Homo sapiens: one gene and its partners. The protein of the gene in region 3 purifies or fractionates together with the protein of the main gene of each other region. This does not show direct contact. Each region holds a gene or a part of one and is shown on either strand. Other genes may lie near its edges. The genes, in order: RNF138, OBSL1, DNAAF8, NFKBIL1, MEIS2, PBX1 and NAMPT.

Region 1 (3,500 bases), on a different chromosome or scaffold from region 3:
ACATAAGTAAAGTGAGGAGCTAGAGAGTTCCTTAAACTACATAAATCCATGTGCCCAAACTAGTAACATTTCTATGTGTAAAGCTGCAATAATGATGCTACCATGAGAAAAACTTAAGGGGTGAATTTGTACCAGAATGGGGTTTAAATGAGCTAAATGCCAGCTTGCTAATTTAGTTACTTTAGCAAGTAATCAATGAGAAATTACTTTTAGAAAAATGCCACGCTAAGTATTATGAAATTCAGTGATTTTTTTTTCAGTCTCATTTCTCAGTAAGTTTATAATCTAGTAAGATCTATGACCACAGCTTTTTTTGGCCTTTTCTATCCAATTCCCAGTCTAAATACCTTTCATCTTTTCAAAAAAAAAAAAAACACCAACCAAGAAAATTCAAATAAGAATTTCAGAGTAGAAACTTGGCTTCCAAAGAAGAGAGATGTCACATTTACTCTACCTGTTTTGCACAGCATCTGCAGCTACCAGAAAACTTCCTCATTATATTTTCAAGGTCTAAGGCCCGTTCAGGACATGCTCTCTCTCTTCTAGTCACATTTCCACGACATAGGGGACAATGTGCTCCGCTTTCCCTCATTGCAGTCAGGAAACATTTTCTACAGAAACTAAACCAAACATTGTGACACATTAATTACAAAAAAAATTACTCTCTTCATCTCTATAATTAAATACAAACAAGTGATTATAAATATGTATTCATATTAAATAAGTTAGGCTACTCATATGTACATAAATCTCAGAAGTTTAGTAACTGTATATGTATTTATCAGAGAGTAAGACTGATAACTGGACTAGATGGGAATATTTGAACAATTACACTCAAGTCTGCTTTACAACTTCTTAACATAATATATGATGAATAAATATTAATGCTACATATTAATAATATTACTAGAGGAAGCATGGTACAAAGGAAAAACCGGATCCTGGCTCTGCCATTTAGTAGCTGTGTAATCTTAGGCCAACAAATTAACGCACACTGGATCTCCATTTCCTCCCCTTACAAAATAAAAGGATGAGTAACATAAGCTTTTGTCTCAAACTGATGTATATCGACATGTTGTTCCACAAGACATAAACAGGTCTACTACAAAAGAGCACACAAATTGGTTTGGGAAGTTCTAGGATAAAGTTAATAGGTTTTACCCAAAGTTAGGTGTTACCCAAAGTTATCTGCGTGTTAACAGATATTTGGTTATTTGGTCCGGAAGTAGGGAAATTTCCCAAACAGTATGCAATGGAACATAATTTGAGAAATACTTAAGAATACTTCCGGCTTTGCCGGGCACGGTGGCTCACGCCTGTAATCCCAGCACTTTGGGACGCTGAAGCAGGCGGATCACGTGGTCAGGAGATCAAGACCATTCTGGCTACCACGGTGAAATCTCGTCTCTACTAAAAATATAAAAAATTAGCCGGGCGTGGTGACAGGCGCCTGTAGTTTCAGCTACCCGGGAGGCTGAGGCAGGAGAATGGCATGAACCCAGGAGACAGAGGTTGCAGTGAGCCGAGATTGCACCACTGCACTCCAGCCTGGGCGACAGAGCAAGACTCCGTCTCAAAAAAAAAAAAAGATTAAACATTTATAACCAACTTTCTAATTAGAATCAAACTAAAATCTTTTTATCTTCTCTAGCCCCACCAAATACCTTATTTGATCATTTTGCTTTCAAGAGAACCAGTTAAATTACAGACATATATATCTGGGATCTAGAATACATATACATTTAATCCAATCTCCTATAAATATATATGAATATTCCTCCTCTATACTAACAGAAGTTGAGAGGAAATGGTGCAGTAACAGATCACATAACCTGAGTTTCCTAACTATGCAGCACTTTTAAACAAGTCAGTTTTTCCCTCTAATATCAGTTTCCTCACTCACGAAATAATAAAAGTATCTACAACTGATTCGGCTGTTCAGAGGATTAAAATAGATAACAAGTATAAAATGCTTAACACATTATTTGTCATGGTCAGGAAAGTGCTCAATAAATAGTAGTTAATATCATTAAAGCAGCACTAGAAGTCATTACCAATTAACACCATAAACTAAAACATTAGGCAGGGCGTAGTGGCTCATGCCTATAATCCCAGTGCTTTGGGAGGACAAGGCAGGAGGACAGCTTGAGGCAAGGAGTTGAAGACCAGCCTGGGCAACATAGCAAGACCCTGTCTCTACAAAAATTAAAAATAAAAAAAATTAGCTGGGTATAGTAGCATGCACGTCCAGTCCCAGCTACTCAGGAGGCTGAGGCGAAGGATCACTTGAGCCCAGGAGGTTGAAGCTGTAGTGAGCTATGAAGGTGCCACTGCATTCCAGCCTGGGTGACAGAGCAATACTGTCTCTCAAAAAACAATAACAATTAAAAATATTTACCATAGCCAGAAACCAAAATAACGCAAAGTAAACAAGATGCCAGTTTTCACTTGCCAAACTAAAAACTAGTTTTATTTATTTTATTTTTTTGAGACAGAGCCTCGCTCTGTCGCCCAGGCTGGAGTACACTGGTGCGATCTTGGCTCACTGCAACCTCTGCCTCCAGGGCTCAAGTAATTTTCCTGCCTCAGCCTACCCAGTAGGTGGGACTACAGGCATGCACCACTGCGACGGCTAATTTTTGTACTTTTTGTAGAGATGGGATTTTGCCAGTTGCTCAGGCTAGTCTTGAACTCCTGAGTTCAAGTGATCCAGCCATCTCAGCCTCCCAAAGTGTTGGGATTACAGGCGTGAGCCATGGTGCCCAGCAAAACTAGTTTTAAAAATAGTAAAAGTAACCAAATCTGGGCACAGCAGCATGTACCTGTAGTCTTAGCCACTTGGGAGGCTGAGGTGGGAGGGTCTCTTGAGCCAATGAGTTCAAGGCCCGCCTGGGTAACACAGCATGACCCTGTCTCTAAAAAAATAGTAATAATAAAACAATGGCCAGGCACAGTGGCTCACACCTGTAATCCTGCACTTTGAGAGGCTGAGCGGGGCAAATGGCTTAAGCTCACAAGACCAGCCTGGGCAACATGGTGAAACCCCATCTCTACTAGCCTGGCATGGTGGCACATGCCTGTAGTCCCAGCTACTCAGGAGGCTGAGGTGAGAGGATCACTTGAGCCTGTGAGGCAGAGGTTGCAGTGAGCTGAGATCGTGCCACTGCACTTCAGCCTGAGCAACAGAGTGAGACCTTGTTTAAAAAAAAAAAAAAAGAAAGAAAAAGACAAAAATGAAAACGGTGGGAAATACCAAGTGTTAGGGAGGATATGAACCAACCTAAACTCACATTGGAGGCTATGGGAGTATAAACTTTTACAACCATTTGGAAAACTGGGTGGCAATATCCATTAGAGCGCATAAATTCCACTCTGAAGTATATACCCATCAAACCTATATACATAAAACCATGGGCAGTGGCTTATGCCTATAATCCCAGCACTTTGGGAGGCCAAGGCGGGAGGATTACTTGAGGCCAGCCTGGACAACATAGTGAGAC
Region 2 (3,500 bases), on a different chromosome or scaffold from region 3:
CAGGGCAACAGAGTGAGAGCCTGTCTCCAAAAAAAACAAGAAACAAAAAAGCAAGTGCAGAGTTATCTGAAACATGTCCCCTGGGCCACTGGACTCTCCCTGTAAAGGACTCCCCCAAGTAGGCAGCAGACCAGAGGGCATGGCTTATGCGGCCCCACAATCAGCCTTGGCTGGAGGAGCCCAGGCTGGCATGCTTCCTGACCTTGGACAGTGACGCCGAAGAAGGCCGAGACCCCTTCTGTCCTGCACTCAAACTCGCCACTGTCCTGGACTTTGGCCTCAGGCAGGATCAGACGGTGTTTGCGCCCATCCATCTTCACCACCAGCAACTCGCTCTCCTCCACCTTCTGCCCATCCTTGTACCAGGTTGCCGGGAAGTCCACCCTTGAGAGCTCACAAGTCAGCACCACCCGCTCTGAGGTTGTGAAGGTCAACGACACCCTGTCCTGGGGGCTCAGGATGTGCACCGGGCTCTCTGTGTGGGGAGAAGTACAGATAAGCACCCCTCCCTCCGGTGCATGGGCTCAGTGTCGGATGCATCAGAGGGAACAACTGCTGTTGTTGGGGTTTTTAAAAATAGGCTTAGGCTTCCACACCAACCCTTAAGAGCAGTGCTTTGGCTGTGCATAAGAATTCCTAGGGAGCCTGCTAAAAATGCAGAATTCTTGGATTCCCAAGCACGCAGGGGCCAGGAAATCTGCATTATAAACCAGCCCTCCAGGTGGTTCTGATGTCAGTGAACTGGGATCCCATTTTGGAAATGCTGCTCTGGTTGCTGGTCAGGTCTCACCTGGCCCCTCTGCCTGCGATGCTGACAGTGAATCACCCCAAGACCCCGTGCATGGGTGCCGACAGATTCCTTGATTGGTCTTACAAACTCCAGCAATGGTGACATGGCAAATGCTAGCGTGATCCTTGAACTTTGAGCGCCCCACCTCCAGCTGTTCTCCTCAGGGATGCCTCATTCCCCTCCTTCCCCCTTTCAACAGGTGGCACAGTGTGATCAGGAGCCCGACTGCCTGGGTTCATAATTCAGCACCTGTGCTCATTAGCTCCGTACTTTGAGCAAGTCACTTAACGTATCTGCCTGTTTCCCCAGCTATAAAATGGGAATGTCAAAAGAACCTATCTTAAGTTTGAGATAAGCCTGGCCAACATGGCGAAGCCCCATCTCTACTAAAATACAAAAACAAGCCGGGCATGGTGATGCATGTCTGTAGTCCCAGCTACTCGGGAGGCTGAGGCAGGAGAATCTCTTGAACCCACAAGGTGGAGGTTGCAGTGAGCCGAGATCGCGCCATTGCACTCCAGCCTGGGCGACAGAGTGAGACTCTATCTCAAAAAAAAAAAAAGAACCTATCTTATAGGGCCATTGAGAAGATTGTGTTAATGTATGTAAGGTGATTAGGACTGCGCCTGGCACGTAGAAAGTTGCGATGACAATGTCAACAATTAGACAACATGGCAGGAGGCAGGCAGGGACTAGCAGCCAGGGTCTGTGTCTTTCAAATGAGATGACAAATCTGACAGGATTCTGTAAACCACAAAGCACTCCAGAGAATTGGGATATGATGCTGACATATATCAAGATAACAAGGGGTGCCCTGGATGTTGCATGTGGGTTGAAATTGGCCTTCCGGACCTCTGAGCCCTCAACCTCAGCCCATCATGGATGCTCCTTGCTCTCCTGGCCCAGATACAAGAAATAAAAACAGCATCTGCCTCGTTTTGCCAACAGGACTTCTGTGTCTTGACCCTTTCTGCCCACTCAGGTCCCCACTGGCACCAACCTTGGATTGTGAGGGCAGCTGAGTCCTGCACGCCGGGGCAGCTGAAGCCGACCAGGGCACCGCTGTCCTGGTGCTTGACGGCATGCAGGATGAGTCTGTGCTGCAGACCCTTCTGCTCTATACGGTACCGCAGGGCCCCAGGTTCCACCTGGCCCTCCGGCTCGTTACTCTTGAGCTCTTCCCCATTAAGGAACCAGGTACCCTGGATGATGGTGGAGAGATCGAGGGAGAAGACGGCATCTTCCCCGTCGTATACCTGCACATCCTCCAGACCTGCCACCAGGCGAGCTGTGGGCACTGAGGCAGGGACAGAGTGCAGCTGTCAGAACTAGAAGGTGTGGCAGAGGGCAGAGGCTGGCGGATGGCAAGCCTGTGAGAGGACCAGCACTGAGGGCTGGGGAAGGGAGGAGAAGTGATGGGTGGGTCTGGCAGGACCAACTCACCAAGGTGAGCAGAACCGTGGAACACCACGTGGGGACTACGGCCATGTCCGCTGACTGTGCAGATGCGGAAGCGGTAGTCACCCTCGGAGGGCACACAGTCGCCCGGCACCTCCACGGCTCCGGCTTTCTCGATGCTGAAGCACTGAATCCAGTCTTCAGAGCCCACTTCCTGCCGCTCCAGCCGGTAGATGAATGGGGTCTCGGGAGCTGGCTCGGGAGGCTTCCAGGTCAACAGGACCGTGTTCTTGTGGCCCTTGAACATCTCTGCCAATATGGGGGGTCCTGGGGGACTGTGCTTGACACCTGAGACCAAGGCAGGGATGTGTTCCGGCCTTGCTTGGGCCTCCACAGCCCTTCCACCTTAAATCTACTTCACCAACCCAGCTCCGGCATCTGGCCAACCTCCTGCCCTGCCTCGCCTGTCCAGAGGCCTTCCTGCCCTCACATTTTACTCTGAGAAGCGTAGTGGTACGGGAGTTGCCCAGGCTAAAGGTGACCTCGCCAGCATCCTCTCGGGTGACCCCTGGAAGGACCAGGGCATGCATGTGGCCTGAGCTGCTCTGGCAGATGACCGGCAGCTCCTCCCCATCACGGCTCCAGCGTCCCTCGACCCCGGCCTCTAGAGTTTCCACTAGCAGCACAGCATTCTCTCCTTCCAGGACGTCGAGCTTCCGGGGCAGGCGCTTCAGGATGGGCCCTGAGATGCGGACAGGAATCCATCAACCTGGAATCTGAGCACCTGCCTGCCTCCGCCTCAGCCTCTTCCCCACGGGCCAGCTGACCTTTGACTGTGACGTTGGCCACGGTGCGCACCCGGCCCCGCATCTCGCACAGGTAGATACCATCATCGTCTGCCTTCAGCCTGTGGATGATGAGGCGCCGGACAGTGCCCTCTTCGATCTGCTCGTACTTGCGGCAGGGCAGCAGCCGCTGGTCCTCACGGAACCAGGCCGTGGGGATGCGGGAGTTGGGTACTTTACATTCCAGCACGGCAATCCCGTGCTCACGGCCCTCCACGTCCTGCAGGGGCCGTGTGAACCGGAGGCGGGGCTCTGTGGAGAGGGGAGAGAGAGACAAGAGAGGGCTCTGGAGAAGGCCCAGACTAGGAGTAGGATACCTAGAAGCGCATTAGCTCATGCTGTGTGCTCTTCATGCAGAGCCAGCGGGCACTGTGGAATCACAGAAAACTACCAGAAGGGAAGTGGTGGTTCCTAAGATGACCTGAGTTCTCATCCAGCCCTGACACTAGCCACATCACCTTAAGCAA
Region 3 (3,500 bases):
TTAGCCAGGATGATTTCTTTTTTTTTTAGAGATGAGGGTCTCACTGTGTTGACCAGGATGGTCTTGAACTCCGGGGCTCCCGCCTCGGCCTCCCAAAGTGCTGGGATTACAGGTGCGAGCCGCTGTGCCTGGCCTCCTTTTCTCTCTTTAAGGAAGGCAGGCCCTGCTTGTTCTTTGTTCTTGTTAACCCTCCCCCAGGATGTGCTCTGCTGGGACCCTCCACCCCTCTACTGAGACAGGTACACAGAATGGTGGATAATGGGCCTAAGGTCCTAGTGGGCCAGCCCTCAAGCTGCTTCTAGCTCCAGTGCATGGGAACAGCAGCCATGCCACAGGTAACAGGCCTGAGAAACAGCCAGGCACGGGGAGGCGCCTACCTGGAGCGAGAGCACTGGTGGTCCCTCCGGAGGCTCCACGAGGGGCATTTTGGATCTGGGAGCTGACTCCGCAGCGTGGCAGGGCGCCTCCTTCACCCCACCTTTGTCACTGCTGGTCGGGCCGCAGGCATCCCGGGTGACTTTCTGGAGGATGTCCGTCTCTATCATCTTCCTTCTCTCCTGTCGGAGGGCCCGGCGGTTCACAGATTCTTGTGAGGCAGTGCTGAGGGGCTCTGCCTTTGGGTCTCCTTCATGGCAGGAGAGAGTGGCTTCGGCCTGTGGGTCCCAGGGAGGACCCTGGGATCCTTTGGTGTTGAAAGACAGGCTTCCAAGGTCGCCTTCCAGCCACCTGGGGGGCTCCTCGGCCATCCCAAGAAGAGCGCTGACCTCACCAGAGCTTTCAAAAGGCCTGCCAGGGTCTCTTCCTTCCTGAGAGGATGCATCCTTTGTCCTTGTGTTCTGTCTGCACCCAGGTTCTGTGGCCAATTCTGCAGGCACCAGAACTGGCTGTCAAGAAAACAGGTATGTTCAGTTAGCATCCTCAAAAACATGCTTCAGGGAATGTTTTTCATAGAAAAATATGTACTTTTTTTTTTTTTTTGAGGTGAAGTCTCGCTTTGTTGCCCAGGCTGCAGTGCAGTGGTGCGATCATAGCTCACTGCAGCCTCGACTTCCCTGGCCCAGGCGATCCTCCCACTTCAGCCTCCCAAGTAGCTAGGATGACAGGCACATACTACTAGGCCCAGTTAATTTTTTTTAATATTATTTTGTAGTGACAGAGTCTCTACAACATAGTTGGTCTTCCAGGCTTGTCTCAAGTTCCTGGCCTCAAGCTATCTTTCCTGCCTCAGCCTCCCAAAGTGGTGGGATTACAGGCACAAGCCACTGTGCCTGACCTCTTTTAACCATTTTTAACTGCACACTTCATTCTACTAAAAATACAAAAATGAGCCAGCACAGTGGCGTGCGTGTAATCCCAGCTACTTGGGAGGCTGAAGTGGGAGGATCGCTTCAGCCCGGGAGGTGGAGGCTGCAGTGAGCAGTGAGGGCACCATTGTATTCCAGCCTGGGTGACACAGCAAGATCCTGTCCCAAAAAAAAAAAAAAAAAAGTTGGAAAGCTACTGTTGAATATGGGCTGGCTAAAGACAGCACCACTGAGGCATCCTGCTATTTAAATACAAGGCTAGAGTGGAATGCACTGTTACAGCAATGAAACAATATTTAAATTATCAATCATGATAATGTTGGGGCTCAGAAATTCATACCCCAAGCTAGAGTACAAGTCATCCTTCCACCTCAGCATCCTGAGTAGCTGGGACCACAGGCACACCATCACACCCAGCTAATTTTTTAGTAGAGATCCCACATTACAAAAAAAAAAAAAAAAAAAAACAAGAAAAAATCATCCAGAAGAGTTTCTGAAGTAATTGATTGTAAAAATGAAGCAGCAAAATAAAATCACATGCAAATTGTTCCACCTGAACCCACCAGAGTTCTTAGCTGCCCTGGGGATCTCTCTTGTGTGGGGTTATTTCAAACCTAGGTCTAGGAATGGCTGGGCTGATGGGAGATTTCCTTCAAGGTGATGGGTGGGTGCATGTCCTGGTTCTGGGAGATGATCTGGTTCGGTGCCCATGCCCTCCCATTCAGTAGGTTAATTGTTCTCAGCAGAACACCTGAGAGAAGTTACGCTGGAGCTAGGCCCCGTCTCCATTTTGGAAGTGGGTTAGTGCCTCTACACTGTTTTCTTTTCTTTATTATTATTTTTTTTTTAGATGGAGTCTCACTCTGTTGCCCAGGCTGGAGTGTGCAGTGGTGTGATCTTGGCTCACTGCCATCTCTGCTCCCCCGGGTCCAAGCGATTCTCCTGTCTCAGCCTCTGGAGTAGCTGCGATTACAGGCACCTGCCACCATGCCCAGCTAATTTTTTTATTTTTAGTAGAGATAGGGTTTCACCATGTTGGCCAGGCTGGTCTCAAACTCCTGACTTCAAGTGATCCACCCATACTGGCCTCCTAAAATGCTGGGATTACAGGCGTGAGCCACTGTGCTCAGCCAGAAATGGGGTCTTGCTGTATTGCCCAGGCTGGTCTCAAACTCCTGGCCTCATGGGAACCTCTGTCTCAGCCTCCAGCACTGGCAACACAGGCCTGCGTTGGCACGCTTAGTCCACATTTGCTCATTGTCTCCTGGGTTGTCCCTCCCACGAGGTCCAGCTTGTGTGCTTGCTCAGGCACTGATGGGCCATCTTCCTCCCTCCCACTCCCCACTGTAGCCTGTAGCAGTGTAGTTTAGCAGTTTAGTAAACCAGAGTTCCTGTGTACTCGCCAGGTGCTGGGATGAGCCAGGTAGCCATGAAGCCAGCTGGGTTAAGGGAGAGACAATTAGGACAAGCAGTTGTGACAATGGCCAGAAGCTATTCAGGATGCCATGGTAGAGAACAGGATAGGAGCGATCAAGAAGAAGAGAAGGGTCAAAATCGGATGGAAAATCAAGCGTGCATGCCAGCCCTAAGGTGCCGGGCTCCCCAGGAGAGGGAGGTGCGTGGAGGTTAGATGTTGGGCATCTGAATACCTTGGGTTGTACATGGGGGAAAAAAAAAAGGACCATGTTCTAGCATATCGTGGAAATGCTAGAACAGTGGTTTAGACCAGTCAGTTTAGACTAACATCGCACACACACAGGCGTATACTCTTCTGTGTCCCACAGACCTCGGGAAGGGACTCTTCAGCTGCAGCGACCCAGGCCCTGGACTTGTCGCCATCGGCAGGATCTTCAGCCAGCTCCTCCGACAGGTCTGGAATCAGGGAGGTTTGGTTTCGCTGGAAGATGAACAGCTCCTCTTCCCCATAGTCCGACTGTGGACAAATGAGAGGGCTTTTGGAGGACAAGGCAGCAGGCAGAGCCCTGAGGGCCTAGCCACCCCCGCTCTCCACTCTCCACTCTCACTTCCAGCCCAGCCCGCCCAGCCCATCCAGCCCGTCCAGCCCTGCTGCTCAGGAGCCTGGGGGAGATCCGGTTCTCTCCCAGTCAGCCTTGCTGTGCGCGGCTTCTTGCCACCGTTTAGAAATGGGCTTGGCAGCACAACCTCGTGGAGGTGAGACTGGGGCTCCTGGTTCTG
Region 4 (3,500 bases), on a different chromosome or scaffold from region 3:
TAAATCTATATCAATATATTATTTTCTGACTTTTTATTTCACTTCACTCTTAGGAAGGCTCTATTTTAAGATTATAAAACATTCTCTGCATTTTCTTCTACTACTTTAGATGTATACTCATTTTTATTTTTAGAAATTAAAAAACTCGGCCAGGCGCGGTGGCTCATGCCTGTAATCCCAGCACTCTGGGAGCCCAAGGTGGGTGGATCATGAGGTCAGGAGTTCAAGACCAGTCTGGCCAAGATGGTGAAACCCCGTCTCCACTAAAAATACAAAAATTAGCCTGACGTGGTGGCGGATGCCTGTAATCCCAGCTACTTGGGAGGCTGAGGCAGAGAACTGCTTGAACCCGGGAGGCAGAGGTTGCAGTGAGCCAAGATTGCGCGACTGGACTCCAGCCTGGGTGACAGAGTGAGACTCTGTCTCAACAACAACAAAAAAGAAATTAAAAAACTCTCAAAAATACAAAGTATAATACAATACACAACCCCATTCCTACCACAGGGTTTGTTAATGTACTGTCATGTTTGTAGTATAATTTATTTTAAGGAAATAAAATCATCACAGATAAAGGTAGTTTACCGTGATACCGCCTTCCAAGTTTCATTCCTCCCCAGGCCATCTGTCCCATGAATTTGGTGTGTACCTTCCTGTCATATTCAGGTATTTAATCTGCTGGAATTTACTTTTTGATTAGGTGTGAGGTGGGACTCTTGTTTTTCCCTAGATGAGCCAAATGTTCCAATATTATTTATAAAATAGTTCACCTGGTCAGGCACAGTGGCTCATGCCTGTAATCCCAGCACTTTGGGAAGCTGAGGTGGGTGGATCACCTCAGGTCAGGACAGGAGTTTAAGACCAGCCTGGCCAACACGGTGAAACCCCCATCTCTACAAAAATACAAAAATTAGCTGGGCATGATGGCAGGTGCCCAGCTACTCAGGAGGCTGAGGCAGGAGAATTGCTTGAACCCGGGAGGCGGAGGTTGTAGCAAGCTGAGATTGCGCCATTGCACTCCAGCCTGGGTGACACAGCGAGACTCTGTCTCGGAAAAAAAAAAAAAAAAAAGTTCACCTTTCTCCAGTATTAGAAATGCCCCCTTTAGGCCTGGCGCGGTGGCTCACGCCTCTAATCCCAGCATTTTGGGAGGCCGAGGCGGGCGGATCATGAGGTCAGGAGTTCGAGACCAGCCTGGCCAACACAGTGAAACCCTGTCTCTACTAAAAATACAAAAAATTAGCTGGGCGTGGTGGCGGGCGCCTGTAATCCCAGCTACTTGGGAGGCTGAGGCAGGAGAATGGCTTGAACCTGGGAAGCGGAGCTTGCAGTGAGCCGAGATCACACTACTGCACTCCAGCTTGGGCGACAGAATGAGACTCCATCCCCCACTTCGCCAAAAAAAAAAAAAAAAAAAAAAAAAAAGAAATGCCGCCTTTATAGCGATTTACCAGATCAACCGTTCTCAATGCTCTTTAATACGCTGGAGTTTCATACTAAGAAAAATAAACATAAAAACATTTTGGCCAGGCGCTGTGGCTCACGCCTGTAATCCCAACACTTTGGGAGGCTGAGGTGAGCAGATCACAAGGTCAAGAGATCGAGACCATCCTGGCTAACATGGTGAAACCCCGTGTCTACTAAAAATACAAAAAATTAGCCAGGCGTGGTGGCATACGCCTACAGTCCCTACGCCTATAGTCCCAGCTACTTGGGAGGCTGAGGCAGGAGAATCTCTTGAACCTGGGAGGTGGAGGTTGCAGTGAGCCGAGATTGTGCCACTGCACTCCAGCCTGGGCGACAGAATGAGACTCCTTTTCAAACAAAACAAAACAAAACAAAACAGAAAACAAAAACAAAACCAAAAGACATTCTGTGGGATGGGCACGGTGGCTCATGCCTATAATCCCAACATTTTGGGAGGCTGAGGTGGGTGGATCACTTGAGGTCAGGAGTTTGAGACCAGCCTGGCCAACATGTTGAAACCCCATCTCTACTAAAAACACAAAAATTAGGTCGGGCATGGTGGCTCATGCCTGTAATCCCAGCACTTTGGGAGGCCGAGGCAGGTGGATCATCTAAGGTCAGGAGTTCGAGAGCAGTCTGGCCAACATGGTGAAACCCCATCTCTATTAAAAATACAAAAGTTAGTCGGGCATGGTGGCAGGCTCCTGTAGTCCCGGCTACTCAGGAGGCTGAGGAAGGAGAATCACTTGAACCCAGGAGGCGGAGGTGGCAGTGAGTCAAGATACTGCCACTGCACTCCAGCCTGGGGAACAGAGGGAGACTCCGTCTCAAAAATAAATAAACAAATAAAAATTTAAAAATTAATAAATAAAAATAAAAAAATTAGCTGGGCATGGTGGTGTGTGCCTGTAATCTCAGCTACTTGGGAGGCTGAAGCAGGAGAATCGCTTGAACCCAGGAAGCAGAAGTTATAGTGAGCCGAGATCATGCCACTGCACTCCAGCCTGGGCGACAAAGCAAGACTCCGTCTCAAAAGGAAAAGAAAAAGGAAGCTGGAAGCTGAATGAGATGGGCCTTTCAACCAAGGAGTTAGAAGGCCATCTGGTGGCAGGGCTGGCAGAGGACCAGGAGTAAATAAGGCCAGAGAGGACACCAGGGTCTGGGAGTGAAGGCACTGAGCTTGGGTCCCCCTTTGGAAGACAATGACCTGAGAGCTGTGAGATTTCAGACAAGTTCCCGAACCTTTTGGGCCCTGCTTTCCTCATCTGTAAATGGGATAATATCAGTCTCACCAGCTTCTTAAAATTCAATACAATGGAGTTGGGTGTGGTGGCTCACGCCTCTAGTCCCGGCACTTTGGGAAGCCGAGGTGGGCAGACTGTTTGAACTCAGGAGATGCAGAACAGCCTGGATAACATAGCAAAACAGTCTCTACCAAAAATACAAACAATTAGCTGGGCATGGTGGTGTGTGCTTGTAGTCCCAGCTACTAGGGAGGCTGAGGTGGGAGGACTGCTTGAGCCCACGAGGTAGAGGCTGCAGTGAGCCATGATTGCACCACTGCACTCCAGGCTGGGAGACAGAATGAGACCCTGTCTCAAAACAAACAAGCAAACAAACAATAAAGGAAATCCCTACCACACTATCAGGGGCATTTTGGCTGAGCGCGGTGGCTCACGCCTGTAATCCCAGCACTTTGGGAGGCTAGGCTGGCAGGTCACCTGAGGTCGGGAGTTTGAGACCAGCCTGACCAACACGGAGAAACCGTCTCTACCAAAAATACAAAATTAGCCGGGCGTGATGGTGCATGCCTGTAATCCCAGCTACTTGGGAGGCTGAGGCAGGAGAATCTCTTGAACCCAGGAGGCAGAGGTTGAGGTGGGCTGAAATCGCGCCATTGCACTCTAGCCTGGGCAACAACAGGGAAACTCCATCTCAAAAAAACAAAACAAAACAAAAAACAAAACTCCCATTTTTGCGAGGCAAATTGGGCTCACAGAGGTAAGCTGCATGTCCCTGTTGATGGCAGAGCTGGG
Region 5 (2,923 bases), on a different chromosome or scaffold from region 3:
CGGACACCGGACTTTCTAACTGAGTGGCAACTTGTAGCGGAGGTCCAGGCTCCTTATCAAATTGCTGGCCTGCTAGCTAATGGAGAACTTGTGGAGGATCCCTGTCCAGTCCCTTTGAAGGAAGGTCCCTCCTTTGACAGCTGCTAGAGATATTAGCCACATTTCCCTTCCCAAATCTGCTCCGGGTTAACAGGCCCGCGGGGGCGGGAGGGGGTGAGGAGGCAGGAGGATCCTGGTGGACTCTAACGAGGGTGAGAGCTGAGGGGCGTGAGGGGTGCTGACCTAGGGGGTGGAAGAGAGGAGGGGTGGACGGAAGACACAGACTTTCCTGGTCTTTTCTCTCTTTTTCGTTTAAAATGTGGCTTCTTGCTCAATTCCCAACCCTTAACAGATGGCGACTGCAGTTCTCTCAGAATTTCTTAAAGAAAGGGAAACCTTTGGAATTTATTTCTGCTTTTGCTTTTTCATATAAATAAAAAAGTGTTTTTATATTACTCTTGTTTTGGAGAACATAAGCAATTTTATTCAGACTACAGTATTTCCTTTAACACTATATGGTTGTCAAAACACCATTCCCAGTTTCTTTGCTTTTGACAGCTGAGTCTTTCTTAAATATACCCAAATCGGAACTCTTTACACTAAATAGTAAACCCGAGATAGGAGCAAGTGCCTTCCGGGGTGGTGTAAAAAAAGCATTATAAAAATTGGACAAATCTATCACTTCTCTGTGTTATCATGGGGTTGGGGGTGGGGGAGAGCAAGGTAATGCAAACAAATATTACAATTATCATTCATCTCCAAATATTTAAGAAGGTTAAAGTTAACATGATAGGACGTGGGTTTGACGAATAAACTAAGCATGAGATGACTTTATTCATTAAAACCAAGAGTTGAGAGCTCTGGTCTCTAAACTTCAATGAGATAACTTGATAATTGCATAAAACACATCCTAAACACGAGCCAATTGCCAAGGAAACCCTTCAGAATTTACTGAGTGGAAAGAAAAAAAGGTTCTTTTTCCCACCTGATGTGAGAGTTGATTTATAATGGGGAATTTTCATAGTTTACATAAAAGTATTTAAAGTAAAAATAGGCAAATATTTAAAATTTACAAAAAGACTTCATGTAAAATAGAATAGCAAAAATGAGAGGGAAGCTATCTCTCTTTCCCAAGTGGCACTGAATTTCTCTATTAAGTTAGTTTGTGTCAGAAGCATTATTTCTATGTTTAAACAGCAACACAACACTTAAACTGAAATGTATTTGTAAAAATTCTACCTGACTAAATATAACACAAAACAATAGAAGTGTATTTCCTCGTTCATTTATATAGAACCTCCATAAATGCTGTCTGAAATGGAAAGATGGAAGAGCCCCAAATAATAACTATGGATTTCTTCCAAGTTTAAGTTTGCAGAGATGATGAATAATTTCCTTAGCCGGTTGACATCACATATCTAGCCAAAGTATATGACATTATTCTTTCTAAACAAAGATTCAAAATTTAAGAGTTAAAAAATTCCAGGATAGTATATTTATTTGAAAATTGAGGGGACATGCCTCACCCTTTTTGCACACTTTAGCAGACATTGTTTGTGCAGTATCAATAAGCTAATGGTATAGATTTCCAGGAATGTTGCATAAAATTTTGAAAATGGCATTATACCGTCCATTTTGTTTTGTTTTGTTTTCAGAAAAAAGTTTAAGTTTAGTTATCAAATCATCACACTAGCATCCCTGCACATGGATGTGTCTGAAATAAAAATATACCACAATATAATTTATAAAATATTAATGATTAAGTAATCTTTTAAAGTCAGAATTTCAAACTCCATAGAAGTTGTTTACTTATCTATGAACACCCATATGTAAATTTTCATTTACATATCCAACAATATTGTAGTAAGACAGGCAGAGGAAAAACACAGGCAGATAAATTACCTTTGAGCACAGACATTATTTCTTATGTTGTAAAATTAACCCTGAAAAGTCCTTTATTCTGGCAGAGGATGCCCATGAAAAGCTTTATCTGAAAGTATATATTTTTTAACGTCATGCATCTAAAAAGGAGGTTGAGCATGTTCAAGGGGATCTTTCAACCTGGCTCATCATGTACACATAGTTTCGTACCTTTAGAAGTTTTCTGCTGGTGGAACTTATAGGTCAAATAGACATTGAAAGGCTATAGATGATTACCTTAAAAATTATTGATGAGTTTAAAATATACTCAACTGCTGGGGGGAAAAACCTACTTTTAACACTGTATAGAGTTGGCATTGTGCAGTCTTGTCCTAAAACCATTAAAAACGCAAAAGCCTAACAAAAAATCAAAAATGAAATATTTATTACCGCTTTTTGTGACTTAACACCTTTTTTTTTTTAACATAACGTCACAGTCCTCATACAAGTATTTTAATGTAAATTTGACAAAGCTTAAAGGTAACAGCATTTTCTTCTAGTGAGGAACACGTGCTGAGAAAAGAAGAATTCATGGACATACAATACCAATTCCACAGCAGATCTGATACTAGCAAAAACATTCTTTTTTTTTTCAATTGAGGTAAACACATAGAATATCTAACATGAAACAATTAATAGACCGAACTCTGTACGAAGTTTGTTACAGTATTCTCTTGCTCCTTTTTATCCCCCAAGCTTTGAGTTTCTGATAAAGTCCTAGTTATGGTTCAATGACCATTAATAACTTTTTTTTGTGTTGAGGAAAGCTGCCCAACTTAAGATTGTTTTGTCCACAACCAAGGCTCAGAACTCCTGGAAGAAGCTCCTGCTCTGTCTTTAAATCTTCATTGGCAAGCTCTTTGAAGAAGAGTCCCCCAAAAATAATAATAAGAATTGGCTTATGAAGCACGAACTATAAAGATCTGTTTGAAACTAAAGGACACATTTATGGAGGAACAAAGGC
Region 6 (3,500 bases), on a different chromosome or scaffold from region 3:
GTCCTAAAATCTCTCAGTGTTGGGCCGCATGCAGGACCAGTTGGGTGTGGAGTAGCCAGGTGGACCCACTTGAAGGCATTAACACCCAGCTGAAGGGTTACCAGCCTCAGCTTCGTGGGGAATGTTCCTGCCAGCCGTGGGGGCTTACGGCCTCTTCTGAAGGAAGTATATTGGACATGAGATTCAGTGAGCGAATGAGAGAGTAGAATTTTGCCCCAGCACAATGTTTTGAATAATCGAGCTAAAGTGAAACAACTATATTTATTAATGGCTCAGAGGCGATTCTTTTTTTTTTCTAATTTGTAAATGACCCATAAATTTCTTTGTGGATAAGGCTATTAAAATTTATCATATAAAGAGAAACAACCACATAGAGGTGAAGGAGAGGCTGCTGGGCGCTGCTGCCAGATGTTTGGATGCCCCGAGATTCTTTTCGGTGCCTTTAGGGCCTGGTATTCAGGGCATGGTTACAGCAGCCATCTACTTTCTTAAGGAAACCTTTGTTAGTGGCAATTTGTTCTTCAGAGTGCTTCGGAGATTTAAGTAAATAAATTTAAGAAACAATAACGTGACTAAATCCTTATTGTGCAAAGATCAGCCAAAGGAGCAGTTTCCCATTCAGTCTCCTGAGCCTACAAAGGAAGGATTTTATTGGAAAAAAAAGTCCACAAAATAAACCTCAATGACCTCCTAACCTTTTGCCGTCACCACTATGGCAATTTTGTTTTTGTGTAGCAGAATATTACATATTCAGGTTTGAAGAGAGAAGATCATGACGTGGTAGTGTTGTGGTTTGCGTCTAGGGTGCAGGCTTCCTTCTTTTCTCCTTCCCAGCTACCTGCTCTCCCTCCTCCCTCCCTCCTTTCCTTCCTCTCATCCTTTTTTACTTCACCACGGAGCCCAAGCTTCTGCCCTGCACCTTTTGTCCTCTTTGCTCTTTATGGCCACCACTGATCCACATGGCTCGCCATTCCATTTGATGGTCTCGTGTTTTGTGAGAGCCATACTGTAGTTTTCCTTTTGGCCTAGGAATTGGGATTTCCTTCTGAACAACGTTCAGGGTTGGTTCTTTTGCTGCCTGTTGGCAGCCAGGAGCATGTGGGCACAGCCAGCAGTTATGCTGGTATTATATGTGATGACGCTCAAACATCTAGACATACCCTCATTGAGCTCATCTTCACCTTCCCTGTTACAACCCGAAGCCCTGCTTTGCCAGGGCTGGGAGACACCTGGAACTGGCACTGTCCCCCTGGGGCTCACCAGATGCACTCTGCCATGAAAACAGCTCTTGACTGTGCTCTGGTGTGTGGATATCCACCAGGGACTTAGACCCTGCCACCTCCATCCCCAAAATGTCAACCAACACCGGACCCCTCTCCTCTGCCTTTAATCACTTCCCTCTTTCCCACCCTACCCACACATTCTTTTCAATTTCTTAAAAATTGAAAACACTTTTTATGTTCCCTCTTAACAAAGACTTGGCTGCTGACAACTGAACTGGATTTAGATGAGTGATTTATTTTATGGGAGGTTGTCTGAAGGGGTAGTAAAAAAGACTGTCTCGCTCTTCTGCTGATTTACTAAATCACTGGATCTCCTTCAGTCCAAATCACCACCAAGGGTCCTGGTGTTTTCATAAAGATCAGCCATCTCATTGATCTGAGACGCCATCCTACCAGAGCACTGGCTTCCCTGAAACCCTGGAGACAGCTTGTTAAAAGGACCTCACCCTTGTTTCCAACAGGACAGAGTCCTTATCACTCGGAACACATAGATCTCAATGTTTGGAGCTAAACGACCCTGCTCAAGGGCCAATTTGTCTTCTTGCTATGTTAGACCTCACTCTCTGCTAGTCCACAGGAAAGGTCTGAAGATTTCGTTCCACATGTACTGGATTTGTGTACTTCAGGTGATTTTGGAAATGAAAAATTTAGACTGATCAAGCATTGCAAAGAAAGGCAATGAGTGCACAACCACAGACTTATGGAAATTTAAAAGGAGAAATAAAGAGGGAAATGCTTTTCCTTAAATTGAAATTAGGTAGTATGGGGATGAAAGTAAAAAATATATTTTGTTATGATTACATTTTTCTAGTTGAAATTTTTTATTGTGGTAAAATATATATAAGATAGAATTTACCTTTTTGGGGGGTGGGGGTGTGGAGTCTTGCTCTGTTGCCCAGGCTGGAGTGCAATGAGTGGCGTGATCTCAGCTCACTGCAGCCTCCGCCTCCTGGGTTCAAGGGATTCCCCTGCCTCAGCCTCCCGAGTAGCTGGGACTACAGGCACGCACCACCACGCCTGGCTAATTTTTTGTATTTTAGTAGAGACGGGGTTTCACCATGTTTGCCAGGATGGTCTCGATCTCCTGACCTCGTGATCAACCCCCCACTCAGCCTCCCAAAGTGCCGAATTTACCATTTTAAACTATTTTTAAGTGTACAGTTGAGTATTATTTTGCAGCCATCTCAAAAACTCAGCTTCCCAAAGTGAAATTCTGCGCTCATTAAACAATAGCTCCCCACTCCTCCCCACAACTCATGGTACCCATTATTCTACTTTCTGCCTCTTATAAATTTGATTATTCGAGATTCCACATACAAGTGGAGTGTAATTTTGGAACAAAGCAAGTCCCTCCTTCATTTTCTCACCCTCTCAGTTTCTCTCTTTTTCCAGCCTTTCTTCTATTCCTCAAATGGCATCTTGCAAGTAACTTGGCAGCTTATGTAGCCAAAGAACACAAATGTGTTGTGTTTTTTATTTTCTTTCTTGGGTTACTATTAACGCTCCCTTCCCTGTCTTTTTCTGTAGTTTTGAGTATCCGAGGAGCCCAGGAGGAGGAACCCACAGACCCCCAGCTGATGCGGCTGGACAACATGCTGTTAGCGGAAGGCGTGGCGGGGCCTGAGAAGGGCGGAGGGTCGGCGGCAGCGGCGGCAGCGGCGGCGGCTTCTGGAGGGGCAGGTTCAGACAACTCAGTGGAGCATTCAGATTACAGAGCCAAACTCTCACAGATCAGACAAATCTACCATACGGAGCTGGAGAAATACGAGCAGGTAACCAGAACCACCTGGGGCTCGGCACCCAGGCCCTTTAGGAAAGGGTGGAGGAAGCACAACCCCGGGGCTTGCAGAGAGGAGCGGCTCACCTTTCCCAGGTGCTGGCATCCCTGTGCCCGGCATCCCCTGCCCAGCCACAGAGCCCTGGCCAAACTTGAGTCTGCCAAGTCCTGGTCTCAACTGTTAAAAACCTAGGCATTCAATGGAGGTAAAGGCATTAAAAAATGTGTGACGCTGTAAATGATTTCAAGGAAACATAAATCGTGCATAGAAGGAACACTCCATACCTGGACTCCAGAACGTGTGTCTGTGATGTGCAGGCCTGGCTCTCATCCGGGCGCTATAGGTGATCAGCAGAGTCACCAGCTAACCTGCAAGAAGGTGGGAGGTTTTCTCTGGCCCTTGTTTTTCCTTATTTATCAGGAGGCCTATACTTTTTCTG
Region 7 (3,500 bases), on a different chromosome or scaffold from region 3:
ATGTCTTTAATGAAAAGGGATGGAACTACATTCTTGAGGTAAAAGATGGTTTCATCTTTTGATCTGTTTTGGTTTTTCTTTCAGTTCAAAACTTCTTGCAAAGGAATTTGTTTTTGTTTTGTGTTTTTTGAGAGAAAGTGTCACTCTGTCACCCAGGCTGGAGTGCAGTGGCACAATCTCGGCTCACTGCAACCTCTGCTTCCTAGGTTCAAGCTATTCTCCTGCCTTAGCCTCCTTAGTAGCTGGGACTACAGGCACGCACCACCACACCTGGCTAATTTTTGTATTTTTAGTAGAGATGGGGTTTTACTGTGTTGGCCAGGCTGGTCTCAAACTCCTGACTTCAAGTGATCTGCCCACCTTGGCCTCCCAAAGTGCTGGGATTACAGGTGTGAGCCACCATCCCCGGCCAGAATTTGAATAAGAGATTAGAGTATCATTACAGTTCTTTTTTGTTTGTGATCTGAATATAATGGCTATTTCATAGCCATTATATATCCTTTTGAAAAGTTATATTATAGCCAATATATCCTTTTGAAAAGTTAAGGTTGACATTTTATCCCTCTCCCCGCATCCCCCATGTTAAATCATTAGCATATAGAATCTACAGCAAGTCTAAGTAATTAATAAAAATGAATTATAACTTAAATAACATTTTTGAGAAAGATAATTCATTCTTGAAAATACACTATAGGTAGGAAAGGGCATGGTTATTTGGCAATTTCAAAATGTAGGTCTGTTTTCTTGACTGAAAATAGATGCTGTGAGTCTATCACTACACATAATTCTGGGAAGTTTCTCACTGTATAGTGAGAATGGCTTGGTGCTGATCCACAAAGTTGATTTTTAGTCTTGATTGTATTATATTTATATCTAGTATGTTTGAATTCATTGCCTAAATATTAAGGCACTCAAAGACATGGTAATAGAATTATAAGAGTTAAATATCCCGTGGTGGTTTCCTTTTATTACAATGATCAGTTGGGAATGGAATCTGTTGGCGTATCTTGATGTTGAGTGTTACTTTTAAGTCTCACAAACGAAAGTTTCTTACATTGAAAAGACTGTCAAACACAGAATAATTAGAAATACTTTAACTTTCATGCCTATATGACAATACTGAGCTATACTATTTGGTACTTATGGGTCTTGAAAAAGTCAGGTAAGTACTCTGTGCTGCACTTTTCCTGTATCTTAAATAAGGTCAATAGAATCTGTGAGCTATCACCTGTACTTGCTCCATTTCTCTTCTGTGAGGTTTGTTGTAAGGATAAATACAGTAATAAGTTAGGTACTATGCTTATTACTATACTGTCCAGTGGCCAGGGCAATAAGTCGTTTGATTATATGATCAGAAAATCTTGGGGAACTAAAGGTTCTCTAGAGATAATCTGGTCTAACCCCATTTTACAAACAGAATCTGAGACCGAGAGATGGCAAGTGACTAGTCCAGGGTCTCCCCGCTGCTTTTGAGTCCAAACTAGGACCTGTAGGGCAATGTTCTTTTTGCTATACACTGTGCCTCCAGTGCTTGTATTAAACAGATTTTTCTTGTATTTAATTACCTTGTCCCAAATCACATAAATAAATTATCAGGATTTCTGAAACAGCTTGCCTTCCTAGTGAAAAGTTAGGCACAGCTCTTAGCTTTAAAAGGGAGGTACAGTGTCACATAACAAATAACCTTCAGCCTAATTTTGGAGGCAATTATTACATTAAGAGGAAGTCAGTTAAGTCATACTCGAGTGTTAATTGCCAAGATTCTGTGTTTGGCCTGTCTCATAGTTTCAGGTCCACGACCAGAATAGAGGGAACCTATTTCGGTTCTTCTGCAGGGATTTCCCTAGCTCTCCTTCTCTCTCGTTTTGTTTTCTTTTGTTCTTTAATAGCAATCCTTTATCTTTCAATCTGCAGCCTTTATTTTGTGAAAATAACGAATTTAGAATAAAGGTAGTGTTCTTGGAATACTTTTAGAATATGTTGGAATAAAGTCATCCTTTCTCATTTTCTGAAAAAGCAGGGAAGAAGCAACAGTTTGGTTTTGATGAGTTTGGAATTTTCTGCCACTTGTAGTGATAAATGTTCTTAGCAGAAGCACGTGGCAGCATTAAACTTAAAAATTAATATCAGTACGTATGTTAATAATTTTAACTAGTTTTATTTTAGAAGGATAAGGATATTCTGACTAGATTACAGTAACATCTACAATTGCAATTTCTATGACAGTAAATTTAGCTTCTATAAAACGTAAAGAACCTTTAGTAAAACAGCAGGGAATTGAGTATCATCTGTTGAATAAATAAATTTATCATTTTATCCTGCCAGAAGTATGATGGGCATCTTCCAATAGAAATAAAAGCTGTTCCTGAGGGCTTTGTCATTCCCAGAGGAAATGTTCTCTTCACGGTGGAAAACACAGATCCAGAGTGTTACTGGCTTACAAATTGGATTGAGGTAAATTGTTTTTTTAATTCTTATTTAACATTAATTGAATAAAGACCATTGAACTGAGATTACAGTTTAGAATTTGTTACTAATAAAGCTATATAATCTCCTATAATTTACTTAACCTTTCCAGGCTTCAATTTCCTCATCTATAAAATGACAGACTAAATAATCTTTAAGGTTTCTTCTAGTAGAATAGAATGTTCTGAGATTTTGTTTAAATCAAATTATTGAGAGTGATTGTTTTTAAAACCTAGTTGGCTTTCATCTAATTCATTGCCATTTTAAGTGTGTATTATTTTAGAGCAAACTTAGAAAAACAGCACATTTCTAGTAACTTACGACATTCGATGAATGATAAATGTTCAAGTTAGACTAAAGGAACTTTATTCCAACTTCTAGTAACTACTTTCTTCATTTTTCTCTCATCAGTTTAGGTCTTAGGATCTACCATCTGTTACTTTTCAGTTTCTCATCTAAATAAAACAAGATCTGCTGTTCATATTGTTTAATTTCTCAGGAAGGGTACATTTTGGGCTTTGGGTTTATACTGCGAGCCTTTTTTTTGTTTTTCTTGTATGTATACCTAAGTAGTCATATGTTTTCACATGGTCAGAGTTTTGATAATAATACTCTACCTAGCTTCTGAACAGTTTAATAATAGATTTAATCCGTGAGAGGAAATACCCTCGAAAGTTACTATAGAAATAACACCTTACTATCTGGTGGCATTTACTTAGTTCTTAGAACTGACTAATTAGTTTATCGGTTAAAGTAATTTGCTATTATATTGTAAAATAGTACATTTGAGGCTCACTTATAAAAATTGGAAAACATCGAAATATAAGAGGTCCAAGAGGGTGTTTGAAACACATTTTGCTAAGTTGACAGGAAATTAATAGACTTTTTATGGGCCATTAACTAATAATACACTCAAAAAAAAGGTACAGTTAAATAAAGGTTTTAAATAGTCTATACCGTATACTAAAACTAAATTAATATTTAGGACTGAAATAACATATTGATTAAGTACCAGCTATGTACCCAAAAAATGC

What was found.
Region 1: the proteins of DNAAF8 (region 3) and RNF138 purify together in Homo sapiens (affinity purification with mass spectrometry; 2 studies listed by BioGRID and IntAct, with this or other methods). This does not show direct contact.
Region 2: the proteins of DNAAF8 (region 3) and OBSL1 purify together in Homo sapiens (affinity purification with mass spectrometry; 2 studies listed by BioGRID and IntAct, with this or other methods). This does not show direct contact.
Region 4: the proteins of DNAAF8 (region 3) and NFKBIL1 purify together in Homo sapiens (affinity purification with mass spectrometry; one large-scale study listed by BioGRID and IntAct). This does not show direct contact.
Region 5: the proteins of DNAAF8 (region 3) and MEIS2 purify together in Homo sapiens (affinity purification with mass spectrometry; 2 studies listed by BioGRID and IntAct, with this or other methods). This does not show direct contact.
Region 6: the proteins of DNAAF8 (region 3) and PBX1 purify together in Homo sapiens (affinity purification with mass spectrometry; 2 studies listed by BioGRID and IntAct, with this or other methods). This does not show direct contact.
Region 7: the proteins of DNAAF8 (region 3) and NAMPT purify together in Homo sapiens (affinity purification with mass spectrometry; one large-scale study listed by BioGRID and IntAct). This does not show direct contact.

The regions. Positions count from the first base shown.
Region 1 is NC_000018.10:32,108,874-32,112,373, reverse strand, and holds part of RNF138 (E3 ubiquitin-protein ligase RNF138), read right to left. Parts: intron 621-3,500; coding exon 455-620; intron 1-454. UniProt on the Homo sapiens protein: E3 ubiquitin-protein ligase involved in DNA damage response by promoting DNA resection and homologous recombination.
Region 2 is NC_000002.12:219,565,040-219,568,539, forward strand, and holds part of OBSL1 (obscurin-like protein 1 isoform 1 precursor), read right to left. Parts: intron 3,286-3,500; coding exon 3,016-3,285; intron 2,931-3,015; coding exon 2,679-2,930; intron 2,537-2,678; coding exon 2,234-2,536; intron 2,088-2,233; coding exon 1,791-2,087; intron 476-1,790; coding exon 203-475; intron 1-202. UniProt on the Homo sapiens protein: Core component of the 3M complex, a complex required to regulate microtubule dynamics and genome integrity. It is unclear how the 3M complex regulates microtubules, it could act by controlling the level of a microtubule stabilizer.
Region 3 is NC_000016.10:4,737,537-4,741,036, reverse strand, and holds part of DNAAF8 (dynein axonemal assembly factor 8), read right to left. Parts: intron 3,238-3,500; coding exon 3,091-3,237; intron 885-3,090; coding exon 378-884; intron 1-377. UniProt on the Homo sapiens protein: In cyliated cells, dynein axonemal particle-specific protein required for deployment of ODA to the axoneme. Interacts with outer dynein arm (ODA) subunits.
Region 4 is NC_000006.12:31,550,608-31,554,107, reverse strand, and holds part of NFKBIL1 (NF-kappa-B inhibitor-like protein 1), read right to left. Parts: intron 1-3,500. UniProt on the Homo sapiens protein: Involved in the regulation of innate immune response. Acts as negative regulator of Toll-like receptor and interferon-regulatory factor (IRF) signaling pathways.
Region 5 is NC_000015.10:36,888,704-36,891,626, forward strand, and holds the end of MEIS2 (homeobox protein Meis2), read right to left. Parts: 3' UTR 501-2,923; downstream 1-500. UniProt on the Homo sapiens protein: Involved in transcriptional regulation. Binds to HOX or PBX proteins to form dimers, or to a DNA-bound dimer of PBX and HOX proteins and thought to have a role in stabilization of the homeoprotein-DNA complex.
Region 6 is NC_000001.11:164,789,684-164,793,183, forward strand, and holds part of PBX1 (pre-B-cell leukemia transcription factor 1), read left to right. Parts: intron 1-2,810; coding exon 2,811-3,055; intron 3,056-3,500. UniProt on the Homo sapiens protein: Transcription factor which binds the DNA sequence 5'-TGATTGAT-3' as part of a heterodimer with HOX proteins such as HOXA1, HOXA5, HOXB7 and HOXB8. Binds to the DNA sequence 5'-TGATTGAC-3' in complex with a nuclear factor which is not a class I HOX protein.
Region 7 is NC_000007.14:106,271,484-106,274,983, reverse strand, and holds part of NAMPT (nicotinamide phosphoribosyltransferase precursor), read left to right. Parts: coding exon 1-38; intron 39-2,325; coding exon 2,326-2,454; intron 2,455-3,500.